Homo sapiens: one gene and its partners. The protein of the gene in region 1 purifies or fractionates together with the protein of each later gene. This does not show direct contact. Each region holds a gene or a part of one and is shown in the gene's direction. Other genes may lie near its edges.

Region 1 (3,009 bases):
AATTGCCTTGTGGCAGATTTTATTCTGTCTTCCCATGAAGACATAATGAAATTGTGGATTATGGGTTATTATATACGTGAGACAGAAGTATGGTTCTTAAACCCCAGTTTAATGTGGTAATTCAATGCAGTTAAAAACTTTTTTTTATTGAAGGGAGTTTTTGAATGTTTCTGTTCCTAGGTGAACGGCTGTTTCCTCTTATTCAAGCCATGCACCCTACTCTTGCTGGTAAAATCACTGGCATGTTGTTGGAGATTGATAATTCAGAACTTCTTCATATGCTCGAGTCTCCAGAGTCACTCCGTTCTAAGGTGATTTAAATTTATTTACCAAGTTGCCTCTTACACAGTTATTACGTGGCTTTTTATGGGGACTTAATTGTACAGAACACTTACATCGTGTTATATATAAGCCATGTACAGTTGTAAAGTCTGCATAATAACCTGTGGCGCTATTTATCCCCATTTTATAGATAGGTAAACTGAAACAGGCTGAATAATTTGCCAAATGCTCACACAGCTCTTAAGTGGCAGAGCCTGGCTTCAAATCCCATCAGCTCCAACAGCCATACTCTCAACTGCTGCTGCTTTCTCTAGTGGAGAAAGAGAAATATTTTTCGAGTGTGGGGAGGACAAGGAAAGAGTAGTGCAGGGGAGCGATTCATAATTCTAGAATAGTGGTGTAATAGAACTCAAAATTGAATGGATATAGTTGTTTAGTGTAACAATTTATACTTTCATTTGAGGGAAGAAACTTATCTTTGTTGGGAATTGGTATGTTACCATTATGAAACTCTTTATTTCCATTCCTTTCCTGAACCAGTTTATCTGTTTTCCCCTTTTTTAGGTTGATGAAGCTGTAGCTGTACTACAAGCCCACCAAGCTAAAGAGGCTGCCCAGAAAGCAGTTAACAGTGCCACCGGTGTTCCAACTGTTTAAAGTGAGCTTTTCCCTCTGGTTTGTTGTTTTAAGCTTGTTTTCTTCATCTTTTATAAAGTTTGTTGAGCATATTTTGAAATGTACATAGCAAAAGATCATTTTACAGTTCATTTAAATGTATTGCTAATTTTTCAAGGAAAAGTGGAACTAACTATAGAGGAATTAAAGGAATTTTACCCGTTAACTGTTGGATTTTTAAAATCCCAGGACTTTCAGGTGGTGTTTTTTTTTTTTTTTTTTTTTGAGATGGAGTTTCGTTCTGTCGCCCAACCTGGAGTGCATTGACGCGATCTCGGCTCACTGCAACCTCCACCTCCCAGGTTCAAGCAATTCTCCTGCCTCGGCCTCCCGAGCAGCTGGGATTAACAGGCCCATGCCTGCCACCGTGCCCAGCTAATTTTTGTATTTTTACTAGACTTGGGGTTTTGCCATGTTGGCCAGGCTGGTCTGGAACTTCTGACCTCAAGTGATCCGCCCACCTCGGCCTCCCAAAGTCTTGAAATTACAGGCGTGAGCCACTGCGCCCTGCCAGATTTTGTATAGTAATATATATATAAAATGACCTGTCACAGGTTGGCTTTCATAGTTTTACCTTTCCTTTTTGGGTGGTGCCCTTGGGTCTCTACTACTGTCTTTCATCACTCCCAAGAAATTGAGTAGTGCAGCCAGGATCAGGACCAGGGATTGGCAAATGTTTTTTGTAAAGGGCCAGATAGGAAATATTTTGGGCTTTGAGGACTGTGTTATCTCTGAAATGATCTTGTTCCAGTGTTACCATGTCAAGACAACCATAGATAGTATGTATACAAATGAACAGGTATGGCTGTGTTCCAGTAAAACTATGGATAAAAACAACCACATTGCATTTGGCTAAGGGCTTTAATTTGCTACTGACAAGTGATAGTCCTGGTCTTAATTTGTTTTTTTAACATTTACAGATTGATCAGGGACCATGAAAAGAAACTTGTGCTTCACCGAAGAAAAATATCTAAACATCGAAAAACTTAAATATTATGGAAAAAAAACATTGCAAAATATAAAATAAATAAAAAAAGGAAAGGAAACTTTGAACCTTATGTACCGAGCAAATGCCAGGTCTAGCAAACATAATGCTAGTCCTAGATTACTTATTGATTTAAAAACAAAAAAACACAAAAAAATAGTAAAATATAAAAACAAATTAATGTTTTATAGACCCTGGGAAAAAGAATTTTCAGCAAAGTACAAAAATTTAAAGCATTCCTTTCTTTAATTTTGTAATTCTTTACTGTGGAATAGCTCAGAATGTCAGTTCTGTTTTAAGTAACAGAATTGATAACTGAGCAAGGAAACGTAATTTGGATTATAAAATTCTTGCTTTAATAAAAATTCCTTAAACAGTGCACGGATTTGCTTTTTTTCAAAGTCTTTATAATTGCCATGCATAAATAGGTAATATCTTAATGGTGCTGAGCCGACATAAGAATCTTTTATGAAAAATGTACTGTTAAGTTCAGGGGGTCTATTGGTTTTATGTAAAAGGCACAAGACAATTCCTGTAGTGCATTTTATGAGTTAAGGTTTCCATACGGATTATTGAAACAATTTGTTACATGTATTTGTTACATGATCTTAATATTTCATGTACAAGACTGACACCCATCCACTTTTGAAGATAAGCCAGTTTATGGGGTTTTTTTTTTTGCGGGTAGAGGTTGGGTCTCCCTATTTTGTCCAGGCTGGTCTCGAATTCCTGGGCTCAAGCATAAGCATAAGGCTTATTCCTGCATAAGCCACCATGCCTGGCCTGCCAGTTGATGATTATATTGAGGTTTCTAGGCTATGAGATTATTAGCTTAAACCCTTACATGATATAAAACAATGATAGCTACTCTTGAAGAGGATGTAGATAAGATAGGCTTTGGTATGATTTTAATATTAAAGTGTTAAAAGTTATGATTAGTTTTAAACCTTATTCTTGTAACGTCTTTAATTTGGTAGTTCATGATTGTGGCTTAATTTTAGTGTAATACCCAAAGTACTTGTTAAAGGTGAAGATGTGGGGTTCTTTTAGGAGGATGGATTTAGAAG
Region 2 (7,336 bases), on another chromosome or scaffold:
GAACTTGCCACAGGGAACATAAGAAATGTTTATACTCAAAGGTTTAAAGAAGGCATTCCCTAAAATCTTCATCTCCATCTTTGGATAACAGTTTTTGGTGAACATTTTCTAAGATCTCTGCATATTGACTCAAAAATATGAACTATAAAATTTAATATCAGTGGGATCAACGCGTGTTATTTTGTACTTTGATTTTTTTTTCCACTCAGAAATGTCATTAACTGTAGGTACACATTACGCTTTTAAATTGGCTGCCATAGGCCGGGCGCAATGGCTCACGCCTGTAATCCCAGCACTTTGGGAGGCCGAGGCGGGTGGATCACGAGGTCAGGAGATCAAGACCATCCTGGCTAACACGGTGAAACCCTGTCTCTACTAAAAATACAAAAAATTAGCCGGGTGTGGTGGCGGGCACCTGTAGTCCCAGCTACTCTGGGAGGCTGAGGAAGAATGGTATGAACCCGGGAGGCGGAGCTTGCAGTGAGCCGAGATTGTGCCACTGCACTCCAGCCTGGGCAACAGAGCGAGCCTCCATCTCAAAAAAAAAAAAATAATAAAAAATAAATAGATTGACTGCCATAGTACTCCAGTTGTAAAGGTATGACATCACTTATTTAACCAATATCCTGTTCATTGATATTTAGGTAGTTTTCCACTTGTTGCTATTTTATAAATGAGAAGTTTGATGAACATCCTTATACATACGTATTTGCACACATCCTTGAGAGGTTCCTGGAAATAAGATTGACGGATAAAAAGCAGTGCTTATTGCCGGGTGTGATGGCTCACACCTGTAATCACAGCACTTTGGGAGGCCTAGGCGAATGGATCACCTGAGGTCAGGAGTTCAAGACCAGCCTGGCCAAGGTAATAAAACCTATTTTTGTCTCTGTTAAAAATACAAAAATACACTGGGCATGGTGGCGCACTGCTGTAATCCCAGCTACTTACTCCGGAGGCTGAGGCAGGAGAATTGCTTGAACCTGGGAGGCAGAGGTTGCAGTGAGTCGAGATTGCACCACTACACTCCAGCCTGGGTAACAGAGGTAGACTGTCTTTAAAAAAAAAAAAAAAAAGCAATGCTTATTTAAAATATCATGATTTTGATGACCAGTTAATGTCTTCCTTAGCAGTACTTCAGTGCCTGTTATTATTCCATGTAGAATTTTTTTATTTTTTAGAGACAGGGTCTTCCTCTGTTTCCCAGGCTGGAGTGCACTGGTGTGATCATGGCTCACTGCAGTCTCAAATTCCAGGGCTCAAGTGATCTTCCCGTCTCAGCCTCCCAGGTAGCTGGGACTACAGGCGTGCCACCCCACCTAGCTAAGTTTAAAATTTTTTTGTAGAGATGGGGTCTCACTGTATTGCTCAGGCTGGTCTCAAACTTTTGGCCTCTGGTGATCCTCCCACTTGGGCCTCCCAAAGCACTGGGATTACATGCGTGAGTCACTAGGTCTTGCCCTCCATGTAGAATTTTAACATGGTATTAGAACTTAAAAAGATCTTTAATAATAACCAATATTGGTGGGGCGCGGTGGCTCATGCCAGTAATCCCAGCACTTTGGGAGGCCGAGGCAGTCAGATCATGAGGTCAAGAGATTGAAACCATCCTGGCCAACATGGTGAAACCTCGTCTCTACTAAAAATACAAAAATTAACTGGGTGTGGCAGCATGTGCCTGTAGTCCCAGCTACTCTGGAGGCTGAGGCAGGAGAATCGCTTGAAACAGGGAGGCAGAGGTTGCAGTGAGCTGAGATTGCACCACTGCACTCCAGCCTGGTGACAGAGCAAGACTCCGTCTCAAAATAATAGTAATAATAACAACAACAACCGATATTGGGCATTTGCAATGTGCCAGACAACACTTAAAGCACATCACATATATTAACTCATTTAATCCTATCTATACTCTACAAAACATATTGATAGCCACATCTTATAGGTGAGGGAAGAAATAACTGTGATCCTATAGTTGGCTTAAGTCTTGAGCCAAGATTGAACTGAGACACAGTACAGAGCAGTATGTTCAACAACTGTGTCATGTCATACCTCCCTCCCTGCTCGTGGTGTGGCTGTGTCTGAAGCACTGACTTGATACCAGTTTTTAAAAACCCTTATACTTCAACTAGTAAACTTTTAAGAACAAAACTCCTTTATAATAAAAAGTATCTTTTAAAAAAGAAAACACGCATGTGCACAATAGTTGACAAATATTTATGAAGTGGAGGGTTTGATTTTCCCCTTTTACTCACCTTTCATTTGTACTCCCTCTCTCATCGAAGGAAGGTAGTTTGAGCCATAAGCAACATTTCCAGGTGTCTGAATTTGCCTCCTGCATCCTCCCTGTTTTCTTACTTTAATCTGAGACTAAAAGTATCTGAAAATGCTCTTCATTTTGCAGATCAGTAAATTGAGGCAGTGTCTTGCAATGGTGATTCCAGCATTCCTTTTATCTTAATACCACAGCTGTCGCCATTGCTTGATCAGCAGCTAACCTTTTATCTTTAGAATGTATTTTATACATCCTTTGTTTGGTTTGGTAATGAAGCATCTGATGAAGTGGGCCCCTGAAAAAATCTTTGTTAGTATAGGTATTACTTTAACAAACTAAGGCAATATATAATACATGATTTACTTTGTCACCTCTCTTCCCCCAAATTTTGTAACTCTTGACCATGTCTTAATTGCCTGGTACTATGCTAGAAGTATAGAAATCATTAAACTAGGCTGGGCATGGTAGCTCATCGGTAATCCCAGCACGTTGGGAGGCTGAAGCAAGAGATTGCTTGATCCCAGGAGTTGAAAACCATCCTGGGCAACATGGTGAGACCCTTATCTCTACAAAAATAAGAAATTAGCGAGGCGTGGTGGTGCATGCCTGTAGTCCCAGTTACTCGGGAGGCTGAGGTGAGAGGACCACTTGAACCCAGAAGTTTGATATTGCAGTGAGCCATGATCCAGTGAGCCACTGCACTCCAACCCGGGTAATGGAGCAAGATCCTATCTCAAAAAAAAGGAAGTTGTTTCAATTATATTTTTTGTCATCTCCTCCTTCCCCCATGGTTGAGTGAATACTAGAAACATGAATCCTTTTTGTTCAGACCAGATGTTCTTTAAGAGTTCTTTTCTAGCTGTATGATCCATGATCTTTAAGGTGTCAAGTATTTGAACCATTTGTGAGTACAGTGCTTCTTACTTTGCTGGGCACATTTCTGTGTACTCTTATTATAAACTACACCTCGTTGGCATTTTGGAGCAATGTAAACACTTAATTAACAGTCACCTTAGGCCAGAAGCAGGAGAAGCAAAGATAGTTGATGGCATATTTCAGAAGATAGGTCCAGACTCTCAAGTATTGAATTGTGAGACTTCATTTTATGTTTATTAAGTTATCCTTTGACTTTTCTTTCCCATTGATTTTCTTTCTGTTTATGCCAGGTGAAATGAGAGGCTTCATACAGTTCTGGCTTGTATGCTCTGTGATTTTTGTAGAAGGTGAACATTGGGATGGAAGAGGGGAAAATCACTTTTCATGTTTATATATGCATATATATGGCTTTTCCCCTTTTTGAGTAAATTTGTACATGTCACACAACTGCACTTGGAGCACAGGGAATTTGTACTTTTGTGTATTGTGGGTAAGGAACAATGACATGTTTCGGGGCTTGTGTCATAGCTCCGTCATGTCTCATTATTTCAAGTCTGGGTTTAAAGATCTTGAGGCAAATTTCTCTGCTGATGGACTTGGTCTGAAGTAAACTGGATTAGTAAAATGAACAAGCATAGATTATTTTATTTTATTCCCACCACCAGTCTCCCAGAGGCTGCTTTCAGCCACAACGCATATGAACAACCTGCAGCCATTCTGCTTGTGAAGTTCTTAGCATAGATACTTTTAAAATGACTTATTAAGGTCAATCTCTAGTAACTGGAAGTAGATACCAGCATTGACTACTTAAAATTGACCCAGGTTTAATAGAGTGGCTACCTGCATAATTTTAACATGTTAAACAACTTAATAGTGTTTAGCAAAGCTTATTTTTAATTTGGCTATGTTTCATTTTATGGTAGACCAAGGTACATAGATTTATAGAGTGCTTTCAGTGTTTTGCTGTTGCTGTTTAGGTTAAAATGCAAGAGTAAACAAGCAAGAAGGAATAAAAGTTTTAATTTCAGTTTTTTTAATAAAGCAATATACATTTACTGAACAAAATTGGGAAAGTGCTGGAAAGTATAACTAAGAAAACAAATTCTGCAGTCCTGTAATTCGTATTTGTATTAGTTGAGATATTGACAGGTATAACATTGTACTATGCTCTTTTCACTTTGCATTACAACCGAACATCGTCCTATGGCAAAGAAAGGAATATTAAAGTAATTTATTAGAAGTGGATTATAAAAGTATTGAGCAAAACCCACCACTGTTGACTGTAATGATGTGAGGTGGAGTTGTCTTTATCTCCAGTAGCAGTGTTTGTGCTAACTTCTGAATATACTTTTAGTGCACAAAATACCTCTTCACAAATTGAAGGAGAATTTGAGAAAGATTGAGATGCCATCTTCTTTTACTCAATTTGGACCTATCCTTTCTTCATCCTACCCTCAGTATCTGATTTCTGTTGTCTAAGTAGGAGGGGTTTTACTTGCAGCAGACTGAGTTCTTGTGTTACCTCACCTAATGTTAAAAGTTAAGGAAGGTGGGGCATCAGCAAGGAAGGGAAAGATGTTTGTGGTGGAGAATGGGAAACCCTTGATTGTAGGGTATTTTTTATTATTTCTGATAGTTACATAATCCATTGGACTTTTTATTCATTTGAACGTTGGACATTTACTCTCTTTGTGATTATAACGCTACCGTGAACATTCTGCATAAAATTCAGAATCTGAATTCTAAATTTTTGTTTTTAGGAAGGATCGAGATCGAGACCGGGATCGTGAAGATCGGTCTAAAGATCGAGACCGAGAACGTGATAGAGGAGATAGAGAGCGAGAGAGGGAGAAAGAAAAGGAGAAGGAGTTGCGAGCTTCAACAAATGCTATGCTTATCAGTGCTGGATTACCACCTTTGAAAGCTTCCCATTCAGCTCACTCAACCCACTCAGCACATTCAACGCATTCAACACATTCTGCTCATTCAACGCATGCCGGACATGCAGGTCACACGTCACTTCCACAGTGCATTAATCCGTTCACCAACTTACCCCATACTCCTCGATACTATGATATTCTAAAGAAACGTCTTCAGCTCCCTGTTTGGGAATACAAGGATAGGTTTACAGATATTCTGGTTAGACATCAGTCCTTTGTACTGGTTGGTGAGACTGGGTCTGGTAAAACAACACAGGTGAGTTATTGTATACCATGGTACATATTTCATTTATGTTTAAGTTTACCAAATGTTGCATATTTGATTCTGGTGGTCATTTCCCTTGTCTGTCCTATAGAACATCTTGAAGAATAGCTGATTTGATGTTTAATTGGCACTCTGAATTTCAGAGTGGAAATCCTATAGAGAATACCTCTCCCCTGAATCTAGGGGAAAATAGTGGTGCTCGCTTTTCAAATTTTGTTACCTTATGTATGGCAGAGGTATTTTGACTCCCGGACAGTACAGATTTAGGGACCCACAGTTTGTTTTCTGGTACTTGGGTGGAGAAATCACTGGGGTAGATTTTTGTCGTTTGTATTTAATATGGTATTTTGAACCATGCAAAAAATGAAATGCCAAAGTAATATAAAGTCTATACCGGTGACTTTTGTCCATCTAGTCGTCCTCCCTCCCATAGAACTAAACACTGTTACTAGTGTGTTATTTGTAATATAGCTAGGATATTTTTTAAACATGGATGGGCTATTATTAACTAGACCCCTGTTGATAGACATTTAGACTGTTTCCCATGGTTGTTTTGCATGGGTCAAGTGTTTCTGTAGGAAGCAGAAATTGCTGGGTCAGAAGATCATTTGTAATTGTGATACAGAAAGCTGGATAGCCTTCCAGAGGGAGCGTATCAATTTACCTTTCCATGAGCATGTAGGAGAACACGTGGGAAACTATTAAAACGTGAATTTTTACAAATCCAATAGGTGAAAAATTGCATTCTAATGTACTTTTTAATTTGCATTTTCTTGCTGTGGGTGAGAAGTAACTGTCTTTATACACTTAAGCCTGAACCATCAATTAAAAATTTCTGGTTTCAAAAGTAGCAGTCCCTGATCATTGTAGAAACTTTGAAAAATTCAGGAAAGTATTGAAGTGAATTACCTGTCTTACCATGCAGAGATTGAACATACCGCATACACAATTTATCTTTTTCTAAAGTTACATGTGCATGGAGACATTTTGAAGGTACTGTAGCAACCAAAATAGGAAGCTTTTATTATAGACTGAGCCTTAGTACCATTCTTCTTTTCTTTTCTTTTTTTTTTTTTTAATTTTTGTGTTGTTGTTGAGACAGTCTTTCACCCATGCTGGAGTGCAGTGGTATGAACACAGCGTCAACCTCCTGAGCTGAAGCGATCCTCCTGCCTCAGCCTCCCAAGTAGCTGGGATCACAGGCATATGCCACCAGTGCCTGGCTAATTTTTAAATAAAATTTTTGTAGAGTTGAGGTTTTGAACTCCTGAGCTAAAGCAATCCTCCTGCCTTAGCCTTGCCAATTTTTCTTTTTTAATGAAGGAAAACTTAGAATTGATGTTAGGGTATTCAAAAATCACCTTACGGAAATTTTAAGAATTTTCAAACTACAAGAAAGACTGTAACTCTGAACTTACTATTTAATTGATATTTGGGTAAAGCCAGACACTGTATACTTTACATGTATTAGCTCATTTACGTTTTTCTATAACCCTGCAGGAAGATATTCATCACCACTTTACAGATGAGCAAAATGAGGTTTAAGTTTATGAGAAACTTAGGTTTAGTGGATTGTCCTGGGTTACATGGATTATGGATTTTGGTGGGCTCAATATTTAAAACTTTGTACCTTTTGTCTTTATATCTAAAGTTTTATATTTCATACTGCTATTCTGTGGTCTGATTATGGGTAGCCTCATTTCAGAGATGAGTTTATTAATGGTTAGTGTAGAAGGAGGTCAGGTCAACTCAAGATGAGGTTTGTGATTATTTGGATTAATATTTAACTTTTAGAGGGGTAATTAAGATACTTGGATACTGAGGATTGCAGCACATCTGGGGGATTTGAAGGGAAACCAAACAGTTTAAAAAGTGAATTTCATTCAAATGTTTCCTAGCATGCTCTTATTAAACTTTGACTCAAACCATTAAAGCCAGTCTTTTTTTGGTGATTTGTTCTTGTCAGAAAAATTCTCTAAACAA
Region 3 (3,668 bases), on another chromosome or scaffold:
CAGAAAGCTATTGGGTATCCTAATGTGTTAATAGCTGAAACTCAGCTGTAATTTCTCCTAAATACTTCAGCATTTTGCATTCTGTACATTGTGGTGCTTTTTCCACCTTGTATTGTTGTAACTGTAAGCTCCTAGGGGGCAGCAATTTGGTCTTAGGCGTGTACCCTGTTTAGTGCCTGGCAATGCCATGTTTATATCAAGGTCTTAATATTACTTTTGAGTTATTTCTCCCACTCTTCATGGAAGTGATGCTCCAGCCTTGCTAAAACACTGAGGGTCCTCCCGATAAGCCAGGCATTGTGATTCCTTGGCTTCAAGTGCCTTCTGTCTTCCCCGAAGGTCCACTGAGATCTACAATCCCCCCTTTCCTCTGATCTCTTGCCATGTAAGTAATTTTTTAAAAGATCAGTACAAGAGCTATATTTTTTCCTAAGAAAAAATTTCAACAGGAATGGGGAGTAGCCCCGTTTTGGGGCTGATCTGTCCAGAATTTGGAGTGAGGAACAAATCCATTCTCATCTACTTTCCACATTTTCCCTCTTGTTTGAGGTCCTGTTCCAACCTTCATTTCTGAAACTGTTCTAGAGCACTTTGTCTTTCTCGTAGTTCATAACTTACCCCTTCAGTCTAGAATTAGAATTACATTATCTGTTTTACTACTTTACTAGACTGTAAGCTCCTAGAAGATAAGGACTAGGGAGTTCATCTCTGTATTCCACCAGAAGGTACAGTGACTCATAACTAGAGTCTTTAGATGAAACTTACTGAGTTGAATAACTTAATATATTTCTGTTTTCATTCCCAAGGGAGGCCATGTCTGGAGATAGACCTTGAATTTAATAAATTTTAGGCACTATACCATTTCAGTGGAGAAAATTGTTGGGAAATTTGGGGGGATGGATATATAAGGGGGAGGAAGTCACTGGCCAGTTTGAGGTGCTTCCATTGGTCTGGGTAACTAGCCATTTCTTCCTGATTGTGCCTAGTATATCCCAGACAGTTTGTTTCTATGCAGAAGAATTTTATATGAAATTTTCATTTCTTTGCAAAAACTTGTTCCTTCTTTCAGTTCATGACATCATCCATGCTAAAGTCTGAGTCATCTGCTTCCATTTTTGTTATTCCCCACATCCAGTCTTCAGCTAAGTCCTGTCAGTTCTACCTCAAGTCTTTCCCGTCTTTCTTCCTCACCTATGTAATTTCAGTAGTCTCTCAGCTTCACTTAACCTCTTACTCCAGCCTACTTTATACACAATGTTAGATTCATCTTACTGAAACATAGTTCTGACCATGTATTCCATGTATGTGTTCTCTCTCCCCTATTAGACTGTAAGCTCCTTATGGGCAGGATCTGTGTCTGAGTCATCTTTGTATCTTGCCTAGCACCTATCAATAAATACTTCTTGAATGAACAAATGAATTCTCATTTCTCGACATAAAGCCTTGTCTAAAGTGAGATGTTTTCCAGGTCATACATAGGTTTCTCCCTGGGGTAATTGGAAGTTCTTGCATATAAAGTTGGTTAAATAGTAATAATTATGAGTTAACCACAGAAAATTTCAGAAAACTTTAATTTTTTTCCATTGGAATCAGCATGGATATGTGTATATGGATGGTTCAATAAATATACTTTTATATACATGTTTCACAGAAATTTTACATTCCATCTTCAAACTGCAGAAATAGATTTTTTTTTTTTACAAGCCAAAAAATAACTGCCATAACTTTTGTGACTTCATGCAAAAAAAGGGGGGAAGAGTAAGGGGCAAAAGGGAATTAGTTGTTCAAGGTTGAGTGTCCAGTAAGAAGTAAAAATGTTACATTAAGGAAGCGATTGCTTAACACGCTGCTTAAGGTGGTAGCCAGACAAATCCTTAACTGCAGCATTAAGGCCATACCAAGTTTATACATATATACAAAGAAATTTCCATATAAAAGACATACTATCACATTTTCTTCTTCATAAGGATGAGGAACTTTGTAATTCTGACCTGATTTTCCAGGCCAATTAATTAAAATGTCCCCAGGCTGCTTTTTAGAAGTATCTTCTACTTTGGCTAGCTGTCAGAGTTGCCGCTATGTGAGCTTGTGACTTCTGGTCTGGCGTGAAAGTATGAATCATCTTGAACCTCTTCCATCATAGCACTATGTTGCTGAGCTAATTCATGCTGCCCAGCTAAGCACATTTTCTACATCCCCAAAGTATTTGGAATCACAGCATTGTAACTTGTGATTGTCTTACCTGTAACAGACTCCACAGTCATGCTGGCATTGTGACCTGAAGAATTACACAGTGCCCTTCTTAGATTCTTTGGGGTTAAGGTAACTTCTTGAATAATGTACTAATGAACGATAGTGTTTCAGGAAACATGCCCTAGCTATTGGAAGTTCGTATCTAACTTTTACCCCTTGTGTGTCATGATACATTTAAGTTGGTAGCTACATTTTTGGAATAAAGGAAATGTAAAATTATTTGCAGAATAATAACCTGGGATTTGCTCTTCTGCCTAAACATCGAACTAGGGAACTTTAAAGACAAAGGGTGCATCTTTTGTGCAAGTATCTAAGCGGGCAAAATGGGGAAAACATGAAGGGCAAGTCCTTTGGGGATGACTTCTAATTAATGCAGAAGTCATTTGCTTTGGCCAGGTTGGGTGGGACTCTGAGATTGCACACTCTTGCCCTGTTGGCAGAAACTAGCCCATCTTAAGTTAGTCAATGAATCCTGAGTCAAAATGAAAGGTTGCTAAATCTAAGATCGAGTGTATAAATAAAATAACCCCTTCCTCCAGTGACTGTGCATTTATTTTGTAATAAACTCATTTTGGAATGTTTTAGCAATGAATTGGTATCTCTCTGTTGTCCTGTTCATCGCCAGTTTTCAAGTATGGCTCCAGTGTGTTCACAGCTATGGCTGCAAGGTAATTTGGTCTCTTTCTATAGCTTCCCTAGGCCAGTCAAGTTTGAGAATAAGGTCTCCGTAAGTGGCCTGTCCTGGGAGAGAGGACCAAGTGATTTGTGATTTGGAAGCACTGTGGTATGTTTGAACACTTGCCAAGTTAACAGTCACTGAGTATTCTAATCATGCACCAGCCACTCTTCACCCTAAATGTACTACAAGTTATTCATTGCAGTAACTTGCATCAATTCTAGATAAGGTGATTTTTATTCAACAGGTCTACTGTGATGCTGATCTAGACAATGAGAGTGGAATAGCCTTTGGCAGTCTTGGAATATCAAGAGGGCTTAAAAGTATTAGGTTTTTGTTTTGGTCATTTTGTGTTTCACTTTGTCCATTTCAAGTCCAAAGCAGTTGAAGACATGTTTTATCCAGTTTGTCAGATGTACTTGGAGACCACTGAGGTCCCTGCTATGTTTGTTTTGAAAGTAGAACTCAAGCTGTTTTTTCTTTTTTTTTAAACATTGCACTAACCTTCTGTCTAATAAGCACAAAAATCACATTGAGTAGGTATTTTGTCTAGATCCATTCAGTATACTAAGCAGGTGGGACCTGTTTGGGATTTAATTTACTTATATCATTTTAACTGTTGTTAGTGCTGAAAATATAATGGCTTAAGTATTGGAAGATTGAACTACTAAAATATGAAGAAGTATGAATTTAAAATGCTCTGAAGTACCTTGTGGGAACTCAATTTTTTAGCCTTTTC
Region 4 (5,747 bases), on another chromosome or scaffold:
TAGTCATTTTAGAATCTCAAAATAGTTTTACAAATTGGAGGAGACTTTGGAAGTCCATGGAATCCATTCAAACTAAAACCTTTTGGTTTTAGTGATGTTGGCAGTTTTCTAAGTAAAAATGAAAAATAATTGAATATCTGCATCTTTAAATAAAATTATTTGACTGCCTGCATGGGGCTTTCTCTTGTCCTTCCCACATTAATGATAAATGATATTCCAACTTTAAATGAATCATAATTGTATGAAAGTCCTATTTTTATATTGACTTATCTAATTTTTTAAGGCTATGGAAGAAATGAATGGCAAAGACTTGGAGGGAGAAAATATTGAAATTGTTTTTGCCAAGCCACCAGATCAGAAAAGGAAAGAAAGAAAAGCTCAGAGGCAAGCAGCAAAAAATCAAATGTGAGTGAAATTTGTATACTTAAAAATTGTATAAATTTTAATATTTATACACTAATTGGAAAATAACAGGTGTTGATCAGACTTGTTAAATGCATAACATCTCTTTAAAGAAGACTTGAACGTTTGAGAGTCATAGGGAAACACCAGTGATCTAAGTGTTTATTGAACTCTTACTATGAACCATATTTGTGAAAATAATCAGAATTGTAAATAACTGGAATTTTGGTAAATTGGCAAGATGAAAAATCTGTCTAGCTTTTTTTTTGTTTTGTATTGGGTGACAGAGTCTCACTTTGTCACTCAGGCTGGAGTGCAGTGGCACTCTTTCGGCTCACTGGAACCTCCACCTCCCGGGTTCAAGAGATTCTCCTGCCTCAGTCTTCTGAGTAGCTGGGTTACAGGCGCCACCATGCCTGGTAATTTTTGTGTTTTTTTTTTTAGTAGGGGTGGGGTTTCGTCATGTTGGCCAGGTTGGTCTCAAACTCCTGACCTCAGGTGATCCGCCCACCTCTGCCTCCCAAAGTGCTGGGATTACAGCTGTGAGCCACCATGCCTGGCCTATCTCACATATTTTCTTTGTATTTTACAGAATGTTCTTCTGAAAATGTCTTAAATATTAGCTGTCCAAATATCTTAATACATTTTGTTAAAGGGTGGAGAGTTTTTTCTCTGAGAGATAGGAAATACTAAATCTCTATTCATGATAGACTGTTTCTTCACCAGTAGTGCTCATTGCCACCCCAAAAATTTCATGTTCGATGGATGGATTTTGAAAATGAAATGAGTATTAAAATTATAACACAGTAGTGCAATAAGAAAACAAGTAGGTGTGTAATGAGTTATACTAATTAGGGAGACCTTTTTAGAGAATCTGTAAATAGGTATCTGCTTAAGACTGAAGGAAACTTAGTTGGGTAAGAATTGAAGTTAGCTCCTAAAAAGTTAGTTACTGATTTCCTAGAAGAGGGGTAATTGTTCTTGAATGTGAGAGCAATAATCACTGTCAATACTATTCAAGGTTAATTTTCTGTTGATTGCCCTGTTTGGAATTTAAAGGAAGAGGATGCTTCTACATATTTCTGTTACTTCATAATCAGGGAATTGATCAAGTTCTAGTTTCTGCAGTTAATTGTCCAGTTGGACAAGTTGGCAAGCTCTGAACCTCAATTTCTTCAGTTCTAAAATGGGATCAGACAAAATTATGTAATAGCTCTGGATTATGTGATTATCCAAGTGACCCATGCTTGTTCTGGGACCAAAGAAAATATACTTTGTAGGTTTGATGATAGTGTAAATGAAGGAAGACTACAAAAAGAGTTAGTTTTAATGCTCTATATTTCAAACACCTGGATATACTAAACAGTGTAAAATAACTTCTTTTTATTTCTTTCAGAAGACGATATATGGTTAATTTATTAAAGTAGAATGTAAGTATAGGAGATTATATTAGATAATGTGATTAGAGCAGTTACATTTGGTACTTGATAGAGGGAGATACTAAATAGAAGGTGGAGGATGTCAGTATATCTGTTAATATTTGAAAAGGAGTACAAACTAAAAGGGATGATTGCATGTTACTTTCGTACTTTAACTTGCTACAGTCTTTTTTTTTTTTTTTTTAAGTTTTAACTAAGCACGTATTCCTACATAATTCTCACTGTATTCCTGTGAGTTAGGTACTCTATCCCTTAGTTTGAAATGAGGAAACTGAGGCTCAGAAGTCAACTTCCTTGGGGTCATTCACATAGTAAGTAGTGGAGTTGGATTTGAACTAAGGTAGTCTAGTCTCCCATAATTTTCCCTCTTAACCACTATACCAGGATTTCTCATCTCTGTCCTCCTGACATTTTGGGCTGGATAATTCTTGGTCTTGGGGGCTGCCCTGTGCGTTGTAGGACTTTTAGCAGCATCCTTGGCCTCTTCCTGCTAGATGCCAGTAGCACCCCCTTTCTCAGTTATGACCGTCTAAAATGTCCCCCTGGAAAGAGGTGGTGGCAAAATTATCCCTGGTGAGAACTATTTAGAAATAGAAAAGGATGATCTTTCCATCATTTCCTCAAAACAATAAACCAGCAGAGCACATAAAAGGTCTAAGGACCTAGTGAACCGGAATAACATTTTTACGTTAGTCAGTTGGAACAGGGGCCTTTAATAATTCAGGATAAAATAAGGCCGGGCGTGGTGGCTCATGCCTGTAATCCCACCACTTTGGGAGGCTGAGGTGGGCAGATCACTCTAGGCCGAGGTGGGTGGATCATTCGAGGTTAGGAGTTCGAGACCAGCCTGGCCAACATGGTGAAACCCCATCTCTACTAAAAATAAAAATTGGCTAGGTATGGTGGCACATGCCTATAGTCCCAGCTACTCGAGAGGCTGTGGCAGGAGAATCACTTGAACCCAGGAGGTGGAGGTTGCAGTGAGGTGAGATTGCGCCACTGCATTGCAGCCTGGGTGACAGAGCAAGACTGTGTCTCAAATAAATAAATAAATAAAATAACATAACAGGTACGGAATAAAAAACACGAGTAAATTATTCCTTCAAGAGGGATTAATTTCCATATTTCATGGGATTATTGGGCTCAAAATAATCACTAAGTTTTAAGGAATTGTATAAAATTGTACTGTAGGGAACATGAGTTGGAATATTGTAACTTCGTTTAGTCCTTTTACATAGTATGTAAGCATATGCTGATTTGTGTGGTTGCTTTCTAATCACTTTGACAACTAAAGTTATACCTGTTTAGTGGTTAAAGTTCAGCACTATAGTTACGGTGTAGTTTATTTTTGGGAAAGTAGCAGATCTTTTAAATTTTACTTGGATAGCATTATTGTAGAAACAGGAAAACTTTAAGGTCTTTATGCTAATTTACTGTAGTAAACTTTGAACTTCACACATTTTGGTTGTGTGCTTGTCCTACTTGCCATTTTGCTTTTGTAATAAATGTTCTTCAAGTATATTGGAATAGAATCTTAGCAGAAATGCAATTCAAAGTGACAAATTTTTTTTTGAGTCAGAGTCTCGCTCTGTCACCCAGGCTGGAGTGCAGTGATGTGACCTTGGCTTACTGCAGCCTCCGCCACCTGGGTTCAAGCGATTCACCTGCTTCACTCAGCCTCCCGCATAGCTGGGATTACAGGCATGACCGCTCCCAGCCCTAAAGTGGCAAATTTGACAGCTAAATCAATTGTAAAAATTCTGTAACAGGTTTATTGGGAGATTTTGAAGATCATGAAGAAATAAATAAGGTTCATAACTAGAGATTTGTGGTATTTTGGGATGCCTATATTGTCATCCTGATCCTCTGATCATTACTACTACTAAAACTTAATCTAGTACAAATAATTCTGTATTAAAGTTATGTGAATTATGCGAAGTAAACTCTGGATTTAAACTGTTACAAATGGCTAAATGCCTACTTGTTAACTAAGTAATTTGATTTAAACTCTAATCTCTGTCTCTTTTTTAATAGGTATGACGATTACTACTATTATGGTCCACCTCATATGCCCCCTCCAACAAGAGGTCGAGGGCGTGGAGGTAGAGGTGGTTATGGATATCCTCCAGATTATTATGGATATGAAGATTATTATGATTATTATGGTTATGATTACCATAACTATCGTGGTGGATATGAAGATCCATACTATGGTTATGAAGATTTTCAAGTTGGAGCTAGAGGAAGGGGTGGTAGAGGAGCAAGGGGTGCTGCTCCATCCAGAGGTCGTGGGGCTGCTCCTCCCCGCGGTAGAGCCGGTTATTCACAGAGAGGAGGTCCTGGATCAGCAAGAGGCGTTCGAGGTGCGAGAGGAGGTGCCCAACAACAAAGAGGCCGCGGGGTACGTGGTGCGAGGGGTGGCCGCGGTGGAAATGTAGGAGGAAAGCGCAAAGCTGATGGGTACAACCAGCCAGATTCCAAGCGGCGCCAGACCAATAATCAGAACTGGGGCTCCCAACCCATTGCTCAGCAACCGCTCCAAGGTGGTGATCATTCTGGTAACTATGGTTACAAATCTGAAAACCAGGAGTTTTATCAGGATACTTTTGGGCAACAGTGGAAGTAGAAACAGTAGGGCCTCTGTAAAATTGGAGACTGATAGGTTGATCAGAAACTCACCCTAAATCTGAACGGGTGCCGCTATAATTTGTGACATCTGGCAAGATTTCCCTTTATGTATATATTTTAACAATCCGCTTGGACACGAACAAAGCCACACTTCTAACTGCTTCTGGCGAACTGATTTTATTTTTAATTTTTTTCAATAAAGATATTCTTAGATACTGAAAGAAATAGTTAATGAGTTTGCATTTGTGCTTGAGAAAATTTGGCTCAAGTCCATTTGGCTGTAGTGTCAACGATGTTTCCAGTAGTGTTTAGATTTGGTGTCTTCAAAGGTAGTTGATTAAAACCAAGTGTGTCTTTAATATCTTGTATCAGAATAACTTTGTATGTTACCAACTTAAATTGCTAGAATAAGGTAAATTGATACACAACTGCTATTTTTAATTTAGAACTTTGACCTAATTTGGGTTTTCAAAACCATTTTGGCTACTTGTATTCTTTATGCTGTTGTTTATTTCAATAAAAAATTCACACCTAAATGTATACTTACTAAAATTGTGTTTACAATTCGTTTTTCACAAAATTTCCTGCAAATTTGGTTCAAATTGTATAGCATGTCAAGGCCAATTAAAGGGTTTTGTGCCTTGTTAATTCTTGTGTGGAATATGTCTGCACATTACACAACACTGATTTATTGCAGTTTTCTGCTTCTGGTTTAAAGTGCTATTTTACAACAGACTTCATGTTCCCATCAAAAATAAAAAGATAATACATGTAGTAAGTTTAAGTTGGTAAGTATTTTAGAGTTCTTAATTGTGATGAATGAACTGTATAAAAGGACAAATTCAGGTAGTCTCAAAGGGTTTGCAGGTCACACTGACAAGTCCACTTTCAGTTGCCTAAAGTTTATCCTAACTAACCTAAAACTCAGATTGAGTATATTGCCCTCTTGACTGTTTTGCACACCATGGGACTAGAAAGCAGCAAAGAAACTCTAGTGTGAAAACAATGGGAATAGGTTTGGGTAATTTGTGAGTTGCACTCTAAATAATCACTGTACTTACCTAATTAAAAATAAAACAGCTTTACAGTTAGTTTTGGGTAAGCAAATATATATCTGAAGGATAAAATTTACCTCACAGACTGGTTTGTATTAAAGATCTAATAGTTTGGATTTTTGTTTCACATTTTAGTCTTGTTTTGGCCATATGGTCTATACTTCTAACAGTAATGATGGGAAAATGTTAGAGTTTTGGGGGACAGACTCTAGGTCAACAGTGA

The links.
Region 2: the proteins of PABPC1 (region 1) and DHX15 fractionate together in Homo sapiens (co-fractionation; 4 studies listed by BioGRID). This does not show direct contact.
Region 3: the proteins of PABPC1 (region 1) and G3BP1 purify together in Homo sapiens (affinity purification with western blotting; 5 studies listed by BioGRID and IntAct, with this or other methods). This does not show direct contact.
Region 4: the proteins of PABPC1 (region 1) and SYNCRIP fractionate together in Homo sapiens (co-fractionation; 3 studies listed by BioGRID). This does not show direct contact.

The regions. Positions count from the first base shown.
Region 1 is NC_000008.11:100,702,228-100,705,236, reverse strand, and holds the end of PABPC1 (polyadenylate-binding protein 1), read left to right. Parts: intron 1-180; coding exon 181-311; intron 312-846; coding exon 847-939; 3' UTR 940-940; exon of another isoform or gene 941-1,877; 3' UTR 1,878-2,321; downstream 2,322-3,009. UniProt on the Homo sapiens protein: Binds the poly(A) tail of mRNA, including that of its own transcript, and regulates processes of mRNA metabolism such as pre-mRNA splicing and mRNA stability.
Region 2 is NC_000004.12:24,574,251-24,581,586, reverse strand, and holds part of DHX15 (ATP-dependent RNA helicase DHX15), read left to right. Parts: intron 1-4,908; coding exon 4,909-5,344; intron 5,345-7,336.
Region 3 is NC_000005.10:151,809,941-151,813,608, forward strand, and holds the end of G3BP1 (ras GTPase-activating protein-binding protein 1), read left to right. Parts: 3' UTR 1-2,845; downstream 2,846-3,668. UniProt on the Homo sapiens protein: Protein involved in various processes, such as stress granule formation and innate immunity. Plays an essential role in stress granule formation.
Region 4 is NC_000006.12:85,613,476-85,619,222, reverse strand, and holds the end of SYNCRIP (heterogeneous nuclear ribonucleoprotein Q), read left to right. Parts: intron 1-283; coding exon 284-405; intron 406-3,875; coding exon 3,876-4,467; 3' UTR 4,468-5,247; downstream 5,248-5,747. UniProt on the Homo sapiens protein: Heterogenous nuclear ribonucleoprotein (hnRNP) implicated in mRNA processing mechanisms. Component of the CRD-mediated complex that promotes MYC mRNA stability.